Linked DNA regions of Homo sapiens. The protein of the gene in region 1 purifies or fractionates together with the protein of each later gene. This does not show direct contact. Each region holds a gene or a part of one and is shown on either strand. Other genes may lie near its edges. The genes, in order: GRPEL2, LYRM7, FAM83G, CDV3 and NDUFAF5.

Region 1 (4,500 bases):
CCAGGGCCCTCAGTTCCATTCCACAGGCTACTTCAGTTTGCTCTTGGCACGATGGTAAGGTTCCAGGGGTGAGCATCCCAAGACAGGAAGTGGGGATACCAGTTTCTTAAGATCTGGGTCCAGAAAATGGCAGTGTCACTTCCACTGTATTCTATTGGTCAAGCAATCACAAAGCTCCAAGGAAACTCAAGAATGGACATGGGCCCTACTCAACAAAGGTGTCAAGAAATTCTGGAGCCATGTTTTAAAACTACAGTGAACTTGAGAGCATGGACATCTGAGTGGATAGGAATAAGAATATACTCACTGACTAGCACTGGGAATATGGGACACATGGTTTATGGAGCTACAGTGTACAGACAGTATTGGAAAGATAATGAAAACGCAAGACCAAATCCCAGGGAAGGCTGGCCCAACAGAGGGCCATTCAGCCAGGAGTCTAGGTATATGGAAGCTAGCTGAGAAGCAGAGGTAAAGACAAGGCCAGGCAGTCACAAGGTGGGAAGGACATGGGGAAGCTGAAGGTCAGAACAAGGCCAAGTGTCTGTAATCTGGTTAGGAGAATAGTCAGCAGTAGTCAAAGGAAATAAGACACCTAGAACCAAAAGGCGAACCCAAGAAAACAAGTCAATGCCAGAAAAGAAGGCAGAAATAGGGCTGGGAACAGTGGCTCAGGCCTGTGAGCCCAGCACTTTGGGAAGCCGAGGCAGGTGGATCGCCTGAAGTCAGGAGTTCAAGACCAGCCTGGCCAACGTGGTGAAACTGTCTCTACTCAAAATACAAAAAATTAGGCGTGGTGGCAGGTGCCTGTAATCCCAGCTACTCGGGAGGCTGAGGCAGGAGAATTGCTTGAACCTGGGAGGCGGAGGTTGCGCTGAGCTGAGATCGCGCCATTGCACTCTAGCCTGGGCAACAAGAGCAAAACTCCATCTCAAAAAAAAAAAAAAAAAAAAAAGGCAGAAATAGGAATCCAGATCTAAGAAATATGTAGCAATCAGAAAGAGGCAAGTCAAGGAGGAATAAAACAGACAAGACTTCAACACGGAGGCAGGGTGGGGAAAGCCCACAGTGCATCCACTTGGCTATGCTGCTATGAGATCTCAAGGTACCTCTCCAGAGCATCAACAAGGCAGGTCAGCAGTCATGAAGTGACCATAATGTTCCATATACAATACGAATAGGCAGACAAAGACTCTAAACACCAGAGCTGCAGTTATTTCAATTCAGGTTTTATTAAAGTTGTTTCTGAATATTTTTTCTCAGTGATCCTTGTTCTGATGAATATTACATTTCATCCTTAGTTTTGCTCATTTGATTTTGCTTTAGTGTTTAAAGAACTTTTATTTATCAAATCCTTTGCCATGAATGAGAGCACCAAATAACATATCAATACCCAACTGCCTGATTCCTTTACAGCAGTAAGAAAAGTCAGTAAAACATTTGTACAGTCCAAGTACTACAACACCAAGATCCCCTCTTCAAGTGAGAGTGAGCCAAAGCTTCCTTAGTATCATCTCAAGTCAATGTCTTTTCACTATACCATTAAGATGAAAATAACTAAGAGCACTGACACAATTTTCTTGCTCTTTCCATCTAAAAATGTGGGTTTCCTGTGGTGTGGCTAATTTTAAAAACCAGAAAATGGAAGGAAAATAAGTCAGTGAATGATTAGCTTACAAGTTTTTTCTACTCATCATTAACCAGTCTTCCCTTTTCCCTAGACTTTAGACAGCCATAAAAAGGCAGGAAAAACAATGTGCATAATAAAAAAATAAAAATAAATATCTGAGCACCTACTGTAGTAGGCATTTAACACATTTCACTTAATCCTCACAACGCTGTGAAAGAATTATTATAATCATTTTACGAATAAAGAAACAGGCTCAGAAGGGTGAAATCACTGGTGCCTAAAGTCCTGCAGGTGACTGAGCTGAGATTTAAGTTCAAGCCTATGCTCTAATATGCTGCTTTGGCTCCCCAAAGCCCTTCAGCTTGAGATTCTTACTACTATAGCTTCATCTTCTAATTCTAAATTTACACTTTTAAGTCTGCAAAACTACTGAATAACAAAAGAACCTAAAATTATTCTGAATTTACTTGCCAAAACGGGAGGTGTAATAGACCATTAGAAAATTCTTCTAGCCTGGACAATATAGTGAGACCCCGCCTGTAAAAAACAACCAACCAACCAAAAAAAAAAAACCAAAAACCAAAAACCAAAAACCAAAAAACAAAACTAGCCAGTCATGGTGGTGCACTTGCCTGTGGTCCTGGCTACTTGGTAGGCTGAGGTGGGAGGATCACTTGAGCTCATTAGGTAGAGACATCTCTTTAGGTAATCATAACATTCCATACCTAAAATTATTGTTAATTGTAATTAATGTTAATTCTAACTGGTAATGATAGCTAGCAATAAAAAAACACACAGAGAGTAATTACAATCAGCTCATTTTCTTATTGTCACCATCTGTCAAATCTCACAGAATGGAAGGCAAAAAAAGACAACTTCCTATTGTGAACCTTGATTGTTCATTAAATTTACAATATATACTTAGTGGAATGCCAAAAGATGTTCTGGTTTTACAAGCTTAACCACCAGTCTTTTGATTGCATTTTAAAAGTGCATATTTACTTGTTTTTTAAGGGTCTAAATCTGATGAAGATGGTAAGGCCCACAAGGAGATGGCTTTATTGATAAGTTTGTGTGCTGTCTTAGAATTATCTATAATGTATAAGAGGTTAACTTTCCACCACTCCACTGAATGTCATAGAGTTCCAGTGGAAAATGAATTTTATTTTATTTTATAACTTCAACCTAAACCTATATAATCTAGACATCCAACAACATCTGATTGTCTGCTGGAGACTTCATTGCATGCCCATTAATCTTAAATGGAGACTTAATTGCATGCCCATTAATCTTAAATGATTGACATTAATATCTAGTTGTTCTTCATTCATACTCTCACTGGAATTTAGTCAATAGTTTAGAGATTATTTTCCTTGTGTCCAGTCCTAAAAAGACTAGATTTTCATACTTCAGAAGCAGAAAGGGTGAGATTTGATCATTAAGGCCTCTTCCAACATTAAAATATCCATAATTGACTGCCTTCCTAAAATCTGACTGATGTATCATTCATTAAGTCGTTTATTGGACAAATCTTTTACAGAACACCAGCTATAAGACTGAAAAAAAACCACATAGGCCCATTAATTCTAGAGGTTAATATATAAAAGGTGAGCTCAATGTTTACACAGATGTGACTTAACAGATACAAAGAATAGGAAATAGAGCTTGTCAATATAACAGAGGTAGTGATTTGTGAGTACCAACTTAAAAAAAAAAACAACAAAAAAACTTTGCGGGCGCAGTGGTGAACGCCTGTAGTCCTAGCTACTTGGCAGGCTGAGGCAGGATTGCTTGGGCCCAGGAGTTGGAGGTCAGCCTGGGCAACACAGGAAAAAAAAAAAAAATTGCCAAGAGGAGAGAATACTTATGTTAAGTGTTCTTATCGCAAAAAGTAACATAAATAGAGCCAGAGGAAACTTAAAAAAAAATTCAGCATTAACTATTAATAAATGAAATGAGAAATCATGGGAACCTAACACTTTTGTCCTGATCACCACCTCCCATCATTTAATAAAGGATTATAAGGTAAAATTGACAAAAGGGCAGAGGAGTAAAGGCTGGTGGAATAAGTTGTAGGTAAATTACCCAAATAGAGCCATCTGGGTCATTAGCTGTTAGTGTTGCCTCAGTTTGCCTGAAATGATTATATGACAAGGAGGCTGAAAATAATTTGAAGAGCAAAGACAGCACAAGGCTTTTTGGCCATTCTTGCTTGAAAGGGTCCTGGGTATCTCAAATTTCGATGCTCCTTGCCTTCCAAGTCTCATCTAGACCTTTAGCCCCTGCAAATGGGGATGAGAAAGGGGTGGGTATGGGACAATGATGTGAGCATAAAGCCTATCTAGTTGGGATTACAAGAACAAAAGATGGCTAAAAGGAAAAAAACAAAACAAAAGGTAAAGTCCTGAAAATCTATGTGTATAAAAATCAATCCAAATGATCTAAATTTATACGACCACGAAGCTTTATCCTCTAAGTACCCAAATGTTGAACCAATCCCTACCATCTCCTTTTTCCACAAAATACAAGATACTACACAATTCCTGTTATAGAGACCGCTAGGAAGAAACATGTAGTTGAAAACCCATAGTTAAAAGGATTTTGGATTCAAATTTATCACAGTACCAATTTTCCTAAACATGTTTTGATAAAGGCCATTGGAACACCTGTCACACTGTTCAAATGCCCAATGGTAAGACTTCTGATGAGACCAAACAGGTCACATTAAATCAATAGAATATCTTAGAAATAAAGCCAATATGACTAAATCCAAAACATATCACATGAAGTACCTCATGTACAATACAAACCTAGTTTAATAAATAAAAGAAACATAGGTGACTGCGCTCTGGGAGAACATCCAGTTCCTG
Region 2 (4,707 bases), about 18 Mb from region 1:
TGTTGTGTGTGTGTATATATACATATATATGTTATATATATATACATATATATGTTTTATATATATATACATATATATGTTATATATATATAAACATATATATGTATATATAATATATATGTATATATTATATATACATATATATGTTAATATATATATAACATATATGTTATATATATGTGTGTGTGTGTGTATATATATATATATTTTTTTTTTTTTTTTTTTTTTTTTTTTCAGATGGAGTCTTGCTTTGTCGCCCAGGCTGGAGTGCAGTGGCATGATCTCGGCTCACTGCAACCTCCGCCTCTGGGTTCAAGCAATTCTCCTCCCTCAAGGGATTACAGGTGTGTGCCACCATGCCCGGCTAATTTTTGTATTTTTAGTAGAGGTGGGGTTTCACCATGTTGGCCAGGCTGGTCTCTAACTCCTGACCTCAAGTAATTTGCCTGCCTCTGCCTCCCAAAGTGCTGGGATTACAGGAGTGAGCCACTGAGCCCAGCCTATGTTGCATATATTTCAATACGTAAGGTGGTTTAGAGTTTGGACTTTTGAATCAGACTGCTTAGACTAAATCCCAGGTCCACCTTTTACTCAGTATGATGTGGGACAGATATTTTCACATTTTGTCAATTTTCTCATTTGTAAAAATAGGAATTATAATAGCAACTATCTTACAGAAATGTTACAAGAATTAAATCAGGAATTCATGTAAAGTACATATAATACAATACATATATCTTATTTGTTCAGAAATTATTTTTGATGAGTTACAAAAACTTAAATCCCTGGAAACAGTGGGGACACTTTACCTAGGTGCACTCTTAAGGAGGTTCATAAATGTATGAGGAGTGGAACTGAACATGAATAACACAGAACCTAAGTTTCAGAGCCTGTGACTTCCAGATAAGATAGAAACTACTTAAAACAGGGAGATACTGAATTTAGAATCATTTGGGATGGATTCTCTTTCACAGCTGCTCTTTTAGACTGATATAAGACATTAACAACATGGTAATATCTGGTCCTAGAGACTGTGAAAATTTGATTATGTAACAGAAAGTTCAATGGCTTGAATATAAGGCAAGCAATGATAAACACTGAAATTCTGGTCCCTCGCCTTTTTTTTTGACCAACTCTTTATGAAGACTTGATCTTTAAAAATTTTTCTTTAAGTAGATATTTCTCAAATAAGTGTAATATAAGCTAATCTTTATAAAAGATATCAGAGAGAGGTAGTGAAGGTCATTCCCTAAAATGGGTCTTGACCACACAGGGTTTCTCAGAGAGATTAGTAGTTATCTAAAAAGTAGACTGGCTCCAAAGGGGTAAAGAACATACTTACCTTCTAATGCTCTGGCATCATTTTTAAAAACTTGTTGTCTGGTCCTGTGCAGTGTTTTAAAGAGCTGTAAAACCTGTTAAGAAAATCAGAATTCAAGGTTGGGCACAGTGGCTCATGCCTGTAATCCCAGCACTTTGGGAAGTTGAGGTAGCAGGATCGCTTTAGCCCAGGAGTTCGAGACCCTGGGCGATATGGTGAGACCCCCATCTCTACAAAAAAAAAATTTTTTTTTGACTTGCAGTCTCACTCTGTCACCCAGGCTGGAGTGCAGTGGTGTGATCTTGGCTCACCACAACCTCCGCCTCCTGGGTTCAAGCAATTCTCCTGCCTCAGCCTCCCGAGTAGCTGGGATTACAGGCACCTGCCACCAAGCCTGGCTAATTTTTGTATTTTTAGTAGAGACAAGGTTTCACCATGTTGTCCAGGCTGGTCTTGAGCTCCTGACCTCAGGTGATCCACCCGCCTTGGCCTCCCAAAGTGCTAGGATTACATGAGTGAGCCACTGCACCCGGCCAAAATATTTTTTTAAAATTAGTCAGGCCATGGTGGTGTGCACCTGTGGTCCTAGCTACTTGGGCGGCTGAAGTGGGAGGATTGCTTGAGTCTAGGAAGTTGAGGCTACAATGAGCTCTGACTGCACTACTACACTCCAGCCTGGGTGACAGAGCAAGACCCTGTCTCAAAAAAAAAAAAAGAAAAAAAAAAAAAAAAAGAAAAGAAAAAGAAAAAGAAAATCAGAATTCAGACCTCAAAAGGAAAACATTTCACATTTCACACAAATCGTATTATAAGGATTAAACAGTATTCCTTTTCTGTTTGTTTCATAGACTATTTTTAAAAATAGTTGGTGAAAACCAGGACTTGCCAAAATAACTTTCCTTTGATTATTTATCTCTACATTAAAAACATTTTTAGCCTTATTTACAAAAATAATACAAAGTTCTTTGAAATAAATAAAACAATATAAGGATGGTTAAAAAGTTAATAATCCTCATGCTAAAAACCAGTCTGCTACTTTACCAGTCTGGTATGTATCTGTTCTCATTTTTCTTAACCTATTGAAGTTTTAATCTGCTCAATATCATACACACACATATGCAAAATTATGAATTTATTGCATCTTAAAAGAGGCCACAGAAGGAAGATGTTTTAAACAATTTAGACAAATTTAATTGCTATTCCCTTTTTTTTTTTTTTTTTTTTTTTGAGACGGAGTCTCACCTTGTCACCCAGGCTGGAGTGCAATGACACAATCTCGGCTCACTGCAACCTCCACCTCCCGAGTTCAAGCGATTCTCCTGCCTCAGCCTCCCAAGTAGCTGAGATTACAGGCGTGTGCCACCACGCCCAGCTAATTTTTTGTTATCTTTAGTAGACACGGGGTTTCACCATGTTGGCTGGGCTGGTTTCAAACTCCTGACCTCGTGGTCCGCTGACTTGGCCTCCCAAAGTGCTGGGATTACAGGTGTGAGCCACTACGTCTGGCCCTTTTAATTGCTATTTCATAAAAGATAAGTGAAATGTTGAGACTTATGAATATTCTGAGTCTGTATTGAAAAAAATAAAAAGAGAGAAAAGAGCCTGGCATTTTGGTAAAAGACAGATTGTGAAGAGGCTTTAGTGATATGCTGAGGTCACTTCACACTTCTCAAGTCCAAAAAGGTACTCAATATTGTTCTCTCAATATTGCTCTTCCTCCACTCTTCTCTATTTTACTTATTGGAGGCCACCAAGTTTCTGAAGCCAGAAATCAGTAGGTCATCCTTTTATTATACCTTACTCTTGTCGTGGAAACTTTAGAAATGTCTCTGTAATCTTTCTTTTATCCTCTCTCAACAAAATCACTTATGTTCAGGCACTCCCCATCTCTTAGACTACTTACAAAGGTTTGTCACTTTGCCACCACACCCTCCTGTCCTCCAGTCTGTTCTGCAAATACTGTCTAACATTTACTAAGCATACTGTGTGCTAGACACCATTTTAAGTGTTTTACGTATATTAGAAAACCTATAACATCAAAGGCAGACATGAAAACAGAAATAAGAAACAGAGCAAAAAAATTTAAAAATAAAAACCAAGCTGCCATAAAAAACTTCCTCAGAAACATGTTATCGCAGAGATGGAATAACATCAATGAAAAGCTACAGTAAATTTAAAAAGGAACATTCCAAAAACTCCCAAAAGCTCTTGGCTATCAAACAGGTGAAAGTAAGGATTAAGTTGAGAAAAATTGCCCAGAATGTAGAATAAAAGTTCAGAAACAGAAATTGAGGAGAGGAAAGATAAGAAAATTAAGGGAGAAGGCCCAACAGCTAGATTAGCAGAAGGGCCAACAAGAGAGAAAAGAGAAAAGGGAGGGAAGAAATTTTAAAATTTTCACTTAATATTTGGGTAAAAGGGAAGAAAAAAAATTTCACCAAGTAAGGCACACGAATTACAAGATAGAAAGGGTTCCACCAAGTGCCCAACATAAAACTCATAACACAGCACAGCATGATGTTAAGTTCAGTGCAATGCTGATAATGAGAACAATCTCAGAGAATCAACATTTCACATGTAAAGGATGGAAAAAATCAGAATGGTACCTGATTTCTAAATAGCACCACTGTAAGAAGACAATGGAATAACATATTCAAGTTTTGAAAAAATGTCTGCTTTAGAACACCATAGATACTCAAACTATCACTCAAAGACAAGGGCAAATACATATTTTCAGAAATGCAAAGTCTCTTATCTGTCATACACACTTTATTGGAAAGCTACAGAAGAATATCCTCCACCAAAATAAGGAAATGAATCACAAAAGGAAAAGACATGGGAACCCAGGAGACAGGTAGTCTAACATGGGAGAGGCAAAGACCATGGGGAAGGACAAATGCTAGTCAACATTTGTGCAGCCAGACTAGAAAGCAACTAGGCAGGACTATAGCAAAAGACTGAATTGCTCCAGGAAAGTTATTGCAAGGAAAAATGAAACTGGTAGACTGGTTTTGCCTAGAATTTGGGAACAGATATCTAGGATATCTATTAAAGGATATTTTTAAAAAGTAATAATTTTTAAAAGGCAGTTATTAATTTAAAGATGAAGAAATGGGAAAAAAGACAATCATATAATGTACTTAAAGGGCTCAGCTGTGGGTAATTTTTATAGCAATAATAACATCAAAGATGTTAAAGTACTAGGTGCTAGTAGAACTGTGAGGGCAGCTGTTTGCTTTATAGGACACAAATGAGAAAATGTGGTGTATATATACATCATAGAATACTAAAAAAGAATGAAATCATGTCCTTTGCAGCAGCTGCTGGAGACCATTATCCTAAATGAAATAACTCAGAAACAGAAAATCAAATACTGCATATTTTGA
Region 3 (3,500 bases), on another chromosome or scaffold:
CCTGTCTATCACTGCGTCAAGACAAGGCCTGATCCCCATTTTACAAGTGAAGAAACTGAGGCCGAGGGTCCTGCAGCATGCAAGTGGCTAAGTGGGACCAGCACTCTCTGCTGGCCCAGGGGCCAGGACCCTCAGCTGCAGGGAGACCCTCTCCAGCCAGGGAGACCCAATCCAGGTCCAGCCACACCTAAGACCCTTGGTGTAACCTTATGAAGGCCCCAGCCGACTCTGAGCCTCAGTTTCCCCAGCTGTGATATGAACATGACGGCAGGCCCTGGCTCTTGGGGTTGTGGGAAGGAGGCCAGCCCAGTGGCTGAGCAGCTGCCTGTCCCACTGGAGTGCCCAGACGGGCAGGCACTCTCTCCTTAGAGCTCCTTCCTCGAAGGGCTGCTCCCGGCTCTCCTCGAAACTCTTAATTAAGGGAAGGGAGCCTTTGGAGCGCACAGGAGTTAACACCTGGGATTACTTTATCAGATGGTTCCCCACCCACTCTCTGACCTGTGGTGGGAGCCTGGGCCAGCTGTGCGCCCCACAAGGTGTCAACTGGGCCACCTGTGGCCTCTGGCAGTGTGGGGAGCTGTCCTGGCACTGCCCAGCTAAAGGATGCAATGAGTGGCCTTCCTCCTGGTCCCCAGGCCACAGAGCTCACCCTGTTCTTGTGAGTCCCCGTCCCAGCCCTCCTCCAGAGAGCCCAGTATTTAGCTGCCAAGGAGCCTCATGAAAACGCTTTTACTGCCAGGCACGGTGGCTCATGCCTGTAATCCCAGCACTTTGGGAGGCAGAGGCGGGTGGATCACAAGGTCAGGAGTTCGAGACCCACCTGACCAATACGGTGAAACCCCGTTTCTATTAAAAATACAAAAATTAGCTGGGCGTGGTGGCGCACACCTGTAATTCCAGCTACTCAGGAGGCTGAGGCAGGAGAATCGCTTGAACCCTGGAGGCGGAGGTTGCGGTGAGCAGAGATCGTGCCACTGCACTCCAGCCTGGGCGACAGAGCAAGACTTTGTCTCAAGAAGAAAAAAAAAAAAAGAAAATGCTTTTACTGTCCTGAGTCAACAGGATCCAGCAGTGAGGCTCTGGTGCTCCCATGCAGGGGTAGGGCTCAGAAGGAACAGTGCCACTGCTTCTCCAGGGAATGGGAGGGTGCTCAGGGCCTGCAGACTGGGGGTCTCGGCCCAGTCCCTCCAGATATCAGTTCTGTGACCTCAGGCCAGTTATTTGCCATCTCCGAGCCCCACCAAGCCTCAGTTTCCTCATCTGCACAATGGAGACAACACCTACTTTCCAGAGTTGTGGGGAGGATTACACAGCATGGTAAAGTGCCCGCTCAGCACCTGGCGCGGGGCTGGCATTTAGTAAGCACCTCATTAAGCTGCTTCTATTCTCTCAGAGCCAAGCTGTGGGCCAGGACTTCAGTGTGTGAAGGCGGGGGCCTGACAGAAAAAATGTGGGGTGAATCAGGCTTCGTGAAACCTGGGTTCGACTTTATTTCTCTGGGTCTGTTCCCAAGCCCTGGCCTGGCATGCAGAGATCAGTGTTCTGGCCCTGGCCACCGGCGCCTCACCTGCCCTCAGTTTCCTCAACTGTGAAATAAGGAAGGTGTGATCTGTCCCTGCCCTGGGGCCTCACCCTGGGGCTGGTGAGGGATCCTGCTAAGGCCCCCCTGCTGTGTCCTGTTGAGGGGGGCTCAGCATCTGCTGGAGGAGCAACCAGCTAGAACATCTACATCCAGCTCTGGCTGAGGAAGCCCCAACCCAGCCCAGCCTCACGCCTTCTCAGGCTGCAGCCAAGTGAGGCCGGGGCTCGCCCCTCCCAGGCGTGATCTTACAAGCCCGTCCTCTGGTATGTAGTTGGAACCCCACAGCAGGTTTTTTCCCAGATAAATCATGGCTCCTGGGGCTAGGGGAGGGGCAGGCAGTTGACCTTCCATCTTGGAGTAGGAGCCCACTAGGGCTGGAGGGAGGCTGGAGGGCACAAGCTGCTGAGAGTGAGACCTGGGACCCACCCGCCTCTTGTCCCAGGGGAGTCTAGGATCACAGGGCAGCAAGGTGTCAGGGCTGAAGGGGCCCCTAACAGTCTTCAATACCTGTTCCCATTTTACAGATGGGATGACCGGGGCTTGGAGAGGAGCTGGGGCTTGTTCCAGGTCCCACAGTCAGGCAGAGGCAGAGCACGGACTCTTGGCTCCTGGTCCTGCTGTCCACTAGTTCCATTCTAGTCATTTGGGAACAGGGGGGACTGACAGCAGTCCTGACAGGAACACAGCCGCTCCCCTAAGTGCTGCGTCACTTCCCTGCCCCAGGGTCTGCCTGTTGTGCTGACGACAGGTAAGGTGAGTGAGGAGGCGGAAGGCTGGGCTGTCCTGACTCAGCCCCAGCAGCCCCAGCCTAAAGCCCCCGGTGGGAAGGGGCCAGTGTGCGGCAAGGCGGCCCAGGCAGAGGGATCCCCATCCTAGGCAGGGGGCAGGCAGAGTTCTCCCTACACAATACCAGAGTGAGAAGGGGAGGTGGAAGCATGGGCACGAGAGGTGATTCATGGGGAGAGATAAGGCAGGGAGCGCTCCCAGGAAGCAGGCAGACAAAGCGCCCCGTCAGCATCCGTCAGTGTCCGGGCCCTGCCCCTGTGAGCCTGGGAAGCAGCTGGGGCAGGACAGCTGGAGGACTGCAGTGGCCTGGATGAGCTGCCCCTCCCAGCCCCTGCCTGTCACTCTGTCCTGCCAGGGCCAGGGCACAAGGGATAGCCTAGAGTTTGAGGGAAACACAGGCCTGGTCCCCACCCCTCTACCCGAGAACTAGCTAGGTGACCTTGGGCAGCGACTAACCAGTTTCTACATCTGAAAAATGAGACAGATAACACTAGCTGAGATTATAAAGCGCCTCGCACTCAGTCAACACTTGCTATTGTTATTATCCCTGCCCACACATGCCACACAAGCCTGGGCCACAGGTCCCAGGACAGATGTGGCAGGGAAGGAAGTGCCCAGGGCAGAAAGCAGGGGCTTGGCTCACCACAATGCTGTGGAGTCATGAACAAATCCCTGTCCTTCTCTGTGCCTCAGTATCCTTGTCTGTCAGATGAGGAGCTTAGTCTCTACTGCCTCTGAGGCCCCCACTGTGGGACCCTTGAGGACTCCCTGAGGTCTGAGAGTAGGGAGCAGTTTCAGCAGTGAGTGCCCCATCCTGAGGGCTGGAAAAGCAGAAAGCAGGGCCCACCTGTCCGAGGCTGGAGGACATCACTCACTATGGGGCCATGTAGACAGACTGGCACCCAAACTGGAGACCAGCTTCTTCCTGGCTATGTCACCTTAGACAGGTGACAGCAATCACCTTGTGGGAAGCAAAGGAAGGCAATGTCACCTTAGGTGACACTAATAACCTTGTGGGACTTTTGTGGGAAGCAAAGGAAGCTCCAGGTGGCTCATGGGACTGTACGGAGTGGCTGGGTCACAGCTGTAGCCAGAGACTCAGGGAGGAACCTGGGGTCAGCAGGTGAAGTCC
Region 4 (4,707 bases), on another chromosome or scaffold:
TTGTACATCAATAATAAAAGGCACAAGGAGACAATTTAGTATTTTGGATTCTTGGCCAGGTGCAGTGGCTCATGCCCTAATCCCAGCACTTTGGAAGGCCAAGGTGGGAGGATCACTTGAGGCCAGGAGTTCAAAACCAGCTTGAGCAATATAGCAACACAGTGAGACTCTGTCTCTATTTTTTTTTTTTGAGATGGAGTTTCACTCCTGTTGCCCAGACTGGAGTGCAATGGCCTGATCTTGGCTCACTGCAACCTCTGCCTCCCGGGTTCAAGCAATTCTTCTATCTCAGCCCACCAAGTAACTGGGATTACAGGCATGCGCCATCATGCCCAGCTAATTTTTTGTATTTAGTAGAGACGGGGTTTCACCATGTTGGCCAGGCTGGTCTCGAACTCCTGACCTCAAGTAATCCACCTGCCTCAGCCTCCCAGAGTACTGAGATTACAGGCGTGAGCCACTGTGCCCGGCCAAAAGAAATTTTTTTAAATAAATATTTTGGGTTTTTCCAAATGTACATTAATAATAGACTGGATAAAGAAAACGTTGCACATATACCCCAAGGAATACTATGCAGCCATAAAAATGGATGAGCTCATGTCCTTTGCAGGGACATGGATAAAGCTGGAAACCATCATTCTCAGCAAAATATCACAAGGACAGAAAACCAAACACTGCATGTTCTCACTCACAAGTGGGAGTTGAACAATGAGAACAAATGGACACAGGGAGGGGAACATCACACACCAGGGCCTGTTGGGGGGTGGGGGACTGGGGGAGGGATAGCGTTAGGAGAAATACCTAATGTAAATGACAAGTTGATGGGTGCAGCAAACCACCATGGCACATATATACCTATGTAACAAACCTGCACGTTGTGTACATGTACCCTAGAACTTAAAGTATAATAATAATAAAAATAAATAAGTATTTTGGGTTAAGATTCTGAAATACTAGCTAAACTAAACATGTGGAAATTGTCTAGTCAAGACTCTTTATCAGCCGGGCGCAGTGGCTCATGCCTGTAATCCCAGCATCTTGGGAGGCAGAGGCGGGCAGATCACTGGAGGTCAGGAGTTCGAGACCACCCTGACCAACATGGTCAAACACTGTCTCTACTAAAAATACAAAAATTAGCTAGGCGTGGTGGCACATGCCTCTAATCCCAGCTACTTGGGAGGCTGAGGCAGGAGAATCGCTTGAACTTGGGAGGTGGAGGTTGCAGTGAGCGGAGATTGCGCCATTGCACCCCAGCCTGGGTAACAAAAGCAAAAACTCTATCAAAAAAAAAAAAGAACGAACAAACCAAAAACACTCTTCATCCAACAATTGAAGGAATTGAAGCCCAGAGATGCTTAGAGGCTTGCCTAAATGCCAGTTAGCAGGGTAGAAATGATTTACATATTTTATTACTTTTTCATCTTTACATATTTCAGAAAGTATCAACTCTCCAAATGTCATAGCAGAACAAGAAACACGTTCCAAACGGTTATTTCCATGGGAGACAGGCTGAAATTCAGTGTTTGACCCAAATATAATATATAGCTTCCCATCAGCTAAATTTTATAAACAAACACTACAATACTGCTGTAAATTCATCACAATTCCACATATACGGTCTTAAATATGTGTAAGTCTGTAAGGCACTACTGGTAAGGTGAGGAGAATAATGATGCTACAAAAGGGAGACTTACTGAATATCTACTACAGCAGGCAGCATTCCACCCCACTGTACAAAGTTAAACCTCACAGTAACACTAAGGCAGCCAAGAGACCCACTGTATGTATGTATGAGGAAACATAAGTACCTTCCCCAGGGCTACAAAGTAGCAGAGCCAAAATAGTGTGGGATTCTAGAGGCTCTATTATTTCACATTACCTTTTAATTCATTTTATCCCCTTTATAGCTCTAAGGTATGATGCAAAAATATTCTCTAAGATTTGAGAAATGCATTTTCTTTAGTAAGGCTGATAGGATCACACATCCTGCAGCAGTATATTTATAAAGAATAGAACAGCCTTATCTCTTTACCTCAAGAGACATGAGAATTTATACATCCTAACTCCCCTTCCCCAACACTAGGGGGAAGCAGCTAAAACAAAAATCAGACTGGATTGAGCTGCTGGAATACCGGGCATCTCCACAGGTTTGTCCCTATTATACCTAGCATTGCTGCAACAGTAAAATGGGGAGATACACATGGCCTGATCAGCTATGCCTGGCCTGGAGGCTTAAAATGGCACTGCACCTCATCCAAAGAATCTTTCCTGACCCCTTCATGGATGATGAAATGTCTCTCCTCTGCCCCAGAGCACCATGCACATCTCTTTGAAATTATCTACTGTTGTCTATTACAGCATGACTTATTTCTACAACCAGAGAACCTCAGTGTCTAGCAGAGTAGTCACATAAGTATTTGCTAGAATAAATCCACCTTGGATAATGTAACCAGCTCTACCTAAAAGGTTTAAGTCTAGATTTCTCACCAAAGTTTCTAGAAAACCACTGGGCTCCAAGAACTCAATTATTTACTGAAACGTGACAAATGCTCAACAGTGTATACCTTCAAGAATTAAATCTTTCTAACATTCTCCCAAAAATCCACTTTAAAGATGGAAGTGGCTGGGCCTAGCAGCTCATGCGTGTGATTCCTTTGCTTTGAGATCACTTGCGGCCAGGAGTTTTGAGACCAGCCTAGGTAAAATAGACCTCATCTACAGAAAAAAAAAGTAAGATTAGTCAGGGGTGGCAACTCACACCTGTAGTCCCAGCTACTCGGGAGGCTGAGGTGGGAGGATCACTTGAGCCCAGGAGTTCAAGACTACAATGAGCTATGATCATGCCACTGCATTCCAACCTGGGTGACAAAGTGAGACTGTCTCAAAAAAATGAAAAAATAGAGATGAAAGAGGCCTACAGGGCCTACAAACAACCAAGGATCTAACTCAAATGACAGCCTCCTTTATAACCACCTCAATGGCTTCCCTCTCAAGAATCTGTCTATAACAGCATGACCTTGAATAAGATCTGTTAATTCAGACACAAAACTGGGCACATTAAGTACCTTGGTACTTAAATCTTGAGCTGGTTGGTAAATGTGAAATAGGATCTTAATATATAATACGTTTGCTGCTAATGAAAAATTTCCCCTTTCAAATGTACAGGTAAAGAACTAATATGCTAACTACTATAAGGACCAGGGTCAAGAACTTTAAGATTGTATGTGACATCTGGCTGGGCTCAGAGGCTCATGCCTGTGATCCCAGCACTTTGGAAGGCCGAGGTGGGTGGATCACCCGAGGTCGGGAGTTTGAGACCAGCCTGAACAACATGGAGAAACCCCGTCTCTACTAAAAACACAAAATTAGCCAGGCGTGGTGACACATGCCTGTAATCCCAGCTACTCGGAAGGCTGAGGCAGGAGAATCGCTTGAACCCGGGAGGCTGAGGTTGCGGTGAGCTGAGATCGCACCATTGCACTCCAGCCTGTGCAACAAGAGCGAAACTCTGTCTCAAAAAAAAAAAAAGAAAAAAAGACTGAATGTGACATCTGCAGCTCTCAGTATACCGAGAAATAGAAAAAGATAAAGCACATGTAGCAGAGACTGGTGGATCTGAGTGAAGAACATATGGGAAGGAGTGTTTCTCAGTGTTGCAGGTTAGTGGAATACCTCTACTAGGATGGCCACTTAGGGCCAATGACTAGATGCTAAGAAAACAAAAAAAACAATATAAAAGCTAGTCTAGGCCGGGTGCTGTGGCTCACACCTGTAATCCCAGCACTTTGGGAGGCTGAGGCGGGCGGATCACGAGGTCAGGAGTTCAAAACCAGCCTGACCAACATGATGAAACTCCGTCTCTACTAAAAATACAAGAATTAGCCAGGTGTGGTGGCGGGCGCCTGTAATCCCAGCTACTCGGGAGGCTGAGGCAGAAGAATCGCTTGAAACCAGAAGGCGGAGGTTGCAGTGAGCCGAGATTTTGCCACTGCACTCCAGCCTGGGCAACAAGAGGGAAACTTCGTCTCAAAAAAAAAAAAAAAAAAAAAAAGCTAGTCTACCTTCAGGTTGAACAGAACTTAAATGCTTGTACTAGCTGATACTTACTTATATCCCTGGCAAGGGTGAAGTATGTAAGTTATTTAAGACACTTTTCACTATCTCAAAAGTAACCAAAATAGATCAAGATCAAAATAACCCTGAAGATGAACATGTAATTTATAGTCAGTAACAGAAAAACACAGGTTCTGTTTAAATAATCTCCATAGTTTAACAAAATCAATTTCTAATCCTCAGTGAACTTGAAACCAAAATTTTATCTTCAGAAAAGTGCTATTTTGCCAAGTTCAACATGGCCAAACACTATTCTTCCAGTCACTCACGTTTTCAAGAACCTGCAGTCACTTAGGAAAGAAAAGACTTAAGAAGAGCCAAACTTTACAACAGAACCGGAGCCACACACACAGGCAGTTCCACAACACCAAATGGTAAGAACCTCACATTCCCTCCTCCCCATTATTTACAGGTCAAGCCCCAGGAGACAGAAAAGAGAAAGACACATTAAGGAAGCCAACAAGTGGTTGGGAATCAAACTCAAGTCTAATCACTTCTACTCAACACCACTACAAAGAAATCTCAAGAGTGGAGAAGCCATCGTTCCTGAAAGTTTCCCATTATCAATCTGGGGGTTTCACTTTGGTTAAGCTC
Region 5 (4,707 bases), on another chromosome or scaffold:
ATCCTCCTAAATACTGTCCCAATACATCACACCTCACTTCCCAGCACTATACTAGTCCTCCAAACAGGTTTCCTTTTTGTTCCTTAATGCTGATGAAGCTCTTGTGCCTCTCCACCTATCCTGTGATTCTGCCTTCTTAGAATGCCTTCCCAATCCAAACTTTACCTACCCTCTAAGGCCCTGCTCAAGTACTTTCCTCTTGAAGCTTTTCTAGGCCATGTCAAGCCACAGGGATCTTGTTCTCTCCTTTGAACACATACTTTTTACCTGCCTCTCACCTGTCTATTGATACGTGTCAATCGATAAAAACTTACCTAGCACTCTCTGAGTATAAGGCATGGAGAAAATACAAATATAAATAAGTAGGTTCCTACTTGCAAAAAGTTTATGGGCAACTAAGGGTAAGAAGAAATCTACATAGAGAATGTCTTATGATTTCAATATTATTTTGCACAGTTCCTAAGCTTTTCATAAATATTTAAAACTTATCTCTACAATTAGATTTCTTAAATTCTCAGGGAAAGGAGAGTTGCCCAATGTACTACTAATATGCCAAATGGCACCAGATGATTTCACCGATTTCTTTCCCAACTGTCAGACCTACAAGTAAATAGTATGTGAAAATAGAAACATCTGTAGATTTCTAACAATAAAGAAAATAACACAAGATAGTTGAATGAACATAAGTTTTCTTACCTGCTCAAGTGCTCTAGGAAGGTCATTCACCCAATGCAAACTAAAATATGAGAATACAGATTTGTTTTAGCTTAACTGGCACAATTAATTAGTAAAATTATCACCAGGTTAATGATAACCCATAAAAAGGTGTTAATTTTGAAGTTTAAAACTGCATATCCAAATCCACTGATCGTTTTCATACAGGTTTTAAAATTATAAATATTCCTAGAGGAAAACCTGCCTTGTGTCACACCAGAAAATTCCCCATGTCAATATATCACTTTGCGTAACTGAAAGAATCTGATATGATTATTTTCTAATTATTCATCACTGAATTATGTAAAAGTCATTCCTACTTAGGCATTTTATCTAAACGGTGCTATTCTGAGACCTTATTTGCAAAAAGTAGTAAAAATGCTCAAAGAAGCTCATCAGTTAAATCAATTAAGCTACAGAAATATAGTATTATTCTAAGTCAGACTTTCTTAGAAAAAAATTATCTGCAGATCTAAATTTTTTCAAGGCAAACAGTGTAACTCATCAAAAGTTTGAATCTGTGAGTTTTCCAATAATATCCCATTTTTTAAAAAATCAATTTTTAAGACTTTATTTTTAATTATTTTTGGAGCAGTTTTAGGTTTACAGCAAAATTAAGAGGAAAACCCAGAGATTTTTTTACATACTCCTATTCCCACACATGCACAGCCTCCCCCATTATCAATATCTCCAGAGTGTATATTTGTTACAACTGATGAAGCTATACTGATAAGTGATTATCCCCCAAGTCCATAGTTTACATTAAGGTTCACTTTTGGTGTTGTATATTCTAAGGGTTTGGATAAACGTGTAATGTCATATATCCAATATTATAATAGTATCATAGAGTAGCTTTACTGCCCTAAAAATCCTCTGTGCTCCACCTATTCATCCTTCCCCTACACAACCCCTGGCAATCACCAATCTTTTTCACTGTCTCCAGAGTTTGCTTTTTCCAGATTGTCACAGTTGGAATTACACACTATGTAGCCTTTTCAGATTAGCTTCTGTCATTCAGTAATACGCATTTAAGTTTCCTCCAAATATTTTAATGGCTTGACAGTTTCTTTTTAGTGCTGAATAATATTCTGTTGTTTGGATACAACAAAGTTTATCCATTCACCTACTGAAGGACATCTTGGCTGCTTCCAAATTTTGGCAATTATGAATAAGGCTACTATAAACATTTGTGTGCAGGTTTTTGCGTGGACGTAAGTTTTCATCTCCTTTGGGTAAACACCAAGGAGCATGCAATCGCTGGATCGTACGCTAAGAGTATGTTTAGTTTTGTAGGAAACAACCAACCTATCTTGCAAAGTGCCTGTACCATTTCGCATTCCCACCAATAATGAACTCCACATCCTTGTCGCATTTAGTGTTGTCAGTGTCCTGGATTTTGGCCATTCTAGTAGGTGTGTGGTACATCCATTTTTTAAGGTGATAAAAACAAACAAAAACCAGAGCTGTATACACTGAAACTTAATCTCTTAAATTTTTTCCTTTTTTGAGACAGAGTCTTGCTGTTGCCCAGGCTGGAGTGCAGTGGCGCGATCTTGGCTCACTGCAACCTCTGCCTCCCAGGTTCAAGTAATTCTCATGCCTCAGCCTCTCGAGCAGCTGGAATTACAGGCATGCGCCATGACATGCAGCTAATTTTTGTATTTTTAGTAAAGACAGGGTTTCACCACGTAGCCCAGGTTGGTCTTGAACTCCTGGCCTCAAGTGATCTGCCTGCCTCGGCCTCCCAAAGGGCTGGGATTATAGGCGTGAGCCACCGTGCCCGGGCCTTGAATTTTCTTTTGACCCTACTCTCACCTAGAGTGTAGTCATGCGTGACAGCGAAAGTCATATTCCCAGTCTCCTTAGAGTACGGTCACACTTTTCTGGTATAACTGCCTCCCCTTATGCTGAGTTCCAGGACAGAACTGAATGTCCATTTCAAACCATACTGTGTTAAGCTCATGTTTATCTTTCCTAATGCTTTTCGACAAGTATTAGATACTTTAAAAACTAAGGAGCTCATACTATAAACTCTATCATACTTATGGGAAAACAGAAAGCAACAGAATTAGTCACCTGCAAATAGCAAGCAGATGAGCTAACATAAAAACTCAGGTTCTGACTCCCTGCCCAGGGTTCTTTATAGACCAAGGCTCTGCATATTTTTCATTTCATGACAGAATGTGAGTAGTTTTCTAACTTTGTTCAGCACATCTAAAAAACCAGGGAAGGAATTACACACTCACGAAAGAAAACATCAAGGGTGACCAGCTTTCCCAGAACATAAGACTTTCAGGCCAAAAGTGGCAAAGTCCTGGGCACACCTTGATGACTGGTCACCCTAAAAACAGCTATCGAAAGAGTTGAACTGGACGTGGAGAGCCTGCTGAACTTCTGAAAGAAAATCTATTTGACTATAAGACAGGAGAAAGAAGATACCACAAAGATATTTTTTCTGTTAGACTGAGTTATTTGAGGACAGGATCCCTAATTCATTTTTGTATTCACCCAAAAATCTGGCTCAGTGCCTTGTATCCTATAACCTATTTGATATATACTTGCATTACATGTTTGTGTAACATATGTGGAGGAAGATAGTAGAAAACATAAAGGGAAAAGAGTAATCTTGAGAACTACATTCTGGTACAGAATTATTATTATTTTGAGACAGGGTCTTGCTTTGTCACCCACGCTAGAGTGCAGTGGCATGATCATGGCTCACTGCAGCCTCAACTTACCAGGCTCAAGTGATCCTCCTGCCTCAGCCTCCCAAGTAGCTGGGACTACAGGCATGCGCCACCTTGCCCAGCTAATTTTTTAATTTTTTGTAGAGATGGCATTTCATTATGTTGCCCAGGCTGGTCTCGAACTCCTGGGTTCAAGCAGTCCTGTTACTGCAGCCTCCCAAAGTGTTGGGATTGCTGGTGAGAGCCACTGTACCTGGCCAGAAGAATTAAGGCTAAAGGAAAACTAGCTGTCCTAGTTTGAGTTTGTCCAGAATGAGTTTGTCCAGAATTTGTCCAGAATGAGTTATGATTGTTGGGAGCAGGAGTTTGAAAGAATATATTCTATGCTCTCTGGTGGAGATAATATGATATAGTGCCTCAACTTTTTTTTCCCCCAACTTGCTAAACTCATCTGTGATAGAAGGGTTTTCTCCCCAATGTAACTTATTATTTTGGAATTGCTCTAACATTTGAATACAGGAGCCAATATGCTCTTTCAAACTCCTGCTCCCAACAAGAGCAATTCCAAAATATTAAGATGCACTGGGGAGAAAAACCTTCTATCACAGATGAACTTTAGGAAGTTCATGCATGCCACCACGCCCAGCTACCTTTTTTGTATTTTTAGTAAAGACAGGGTTTCAACATGTTGGCAAGGCTGGTTTCAAACTCCTGACCTCAAGAGATTCACTCGCCTCGGCCTCCCAAAGTGCTAGCATTACAGGCGTGAGCCACCGCTCCTGGCCTCATAGCAAAACTTTATGGCAAGAATGATCTGTTTATAACATATGGTTTTTAAAAAGTGGATTACCAACCTTAAACTGCTAACCACCAGGTCAAATGTATTTTCTTTGAAGGGAAGGAATTCTTCATCAGCTAAAACGCTGACAGTAGGTATTTCTGTTTCTGAGGAATTTTTCTAATGTTAAGAAAACGAAAGATCAAAATCACATTTATGTAGAATCTCAATTACTAACACAATCACTGTTTGTTAAATTGAAGTCAATGTTATATTTACTTGGCAGTTTCTACCCCCCTTCCCAAAGGTGGCACAGAGAAGGCACCCAAAAAGCATTTCTTAAATGACTTAACATCAGCCAGAAAAAATGGCTAACTAGTTGAAACAACATAAACAGGATACCAACCTCACACCAAAACAAATCTCAGAAAGCTAGTTTGGCTGGGCGTGGTGGCTCACGCCTATAATCCCTGCACTTTGGGATGCCAAGGTGGGCAGTCACTGAAAGTCAGGAGTTCGAGACCAGCC

The links.
Region 2: the proteins of GRPEL2 (region 1) and LYRM7 purify together in Homo sapiens (affinity purification with mass spectrometry, with the first as the bait; one large-scale study listed by BioGRID). This does not show direct contact.
Region 3: the proteins of GRPEL2 (region 1) and FAM83G purify together in Homo sapiens (co-immunoprecipitation; one large-scale study listed by IntAct). This does not show direct contact.
Region 4: the proteins of GRPEL2 (region 1) and CDV3 fractionate together in Homo sapiens (co-fractionation; one large-scale study listed by BioGRID). This does not show direct contact.
Region 5: the proteins of GRPEL2 (region 1) and NDUFAF5 purify together in Homo sapiens (affinity purification with mass spectrometry; 3 studies listed by BioGRID and IntAct, with this or other methods). This does not show direct contact.

The regions. Positions count from the first base shown.
Region 1 is NC_000005.10:149,351,292-149,355,791, reverse strand, and holds the end of GRPEL2 (grpE protein homolog 2, mitochondrial precursor), read right to left. Parts: 3' UTR 1,209-4,500; downstream 1-1,208. UniProt on the Homo sapiens protein: Essential component of the PAM complex, a complex required for the translocation of transit peptide-containing proteins from the inner membrane into the mitochondrial matrix in an ATP-dependent manner.
Region 2 is NC_000005.10:131,176,803-131,181,509, reverse strand, and holds part of LYRM7 (complex III assembly factor LYRM7), read right to left. Parts: intron 1,416-4,707; coding exon 1,343-1,415; intron 1-1,342.
Region 3 is NC_000017.11:18,998,265-19,001,764, forward strand, and holds part of FAM83G (protein FAM83G), read right to left. Parts: intron 1-3,500. UniProt on the Homo sapiens protein: Substrate for type I BMP receptor kinase involved in regulation of some target genes of the BMP signaling pathway. Also regulates the expression of several non-BMP target genes, suggesting a role in other signaling pathways.
Region 4 is NC_000003.12:133,576,186-133,580,892, reverse strand, and holds part of CDV3 (protein CDV3 homolog), read right to left. Parts: intron 1-4,707.
Region 5 is NC_000020.11:13,794,490-13,799,196, reverse strand, and holds part of NDUFAF5 (arginine-hydroxylase NDUFAF5, mitochondrial), read right to left. Parts: intron 4,360-4,707; coding exon 4,256-4,359; intron 737-4,255; coding exon 697-736; intron 1-696. UniProt on the Homo sapiens protein: Arginine hydroxylase that mediates hydroxylation of 'Arg-111' of NDUFS7 and is involved in the assembly of mitochondrial NADH:ubiquinone oxidoreductase complex (complex I, MT-ND1) at early stages. May also have methyltransferase activity.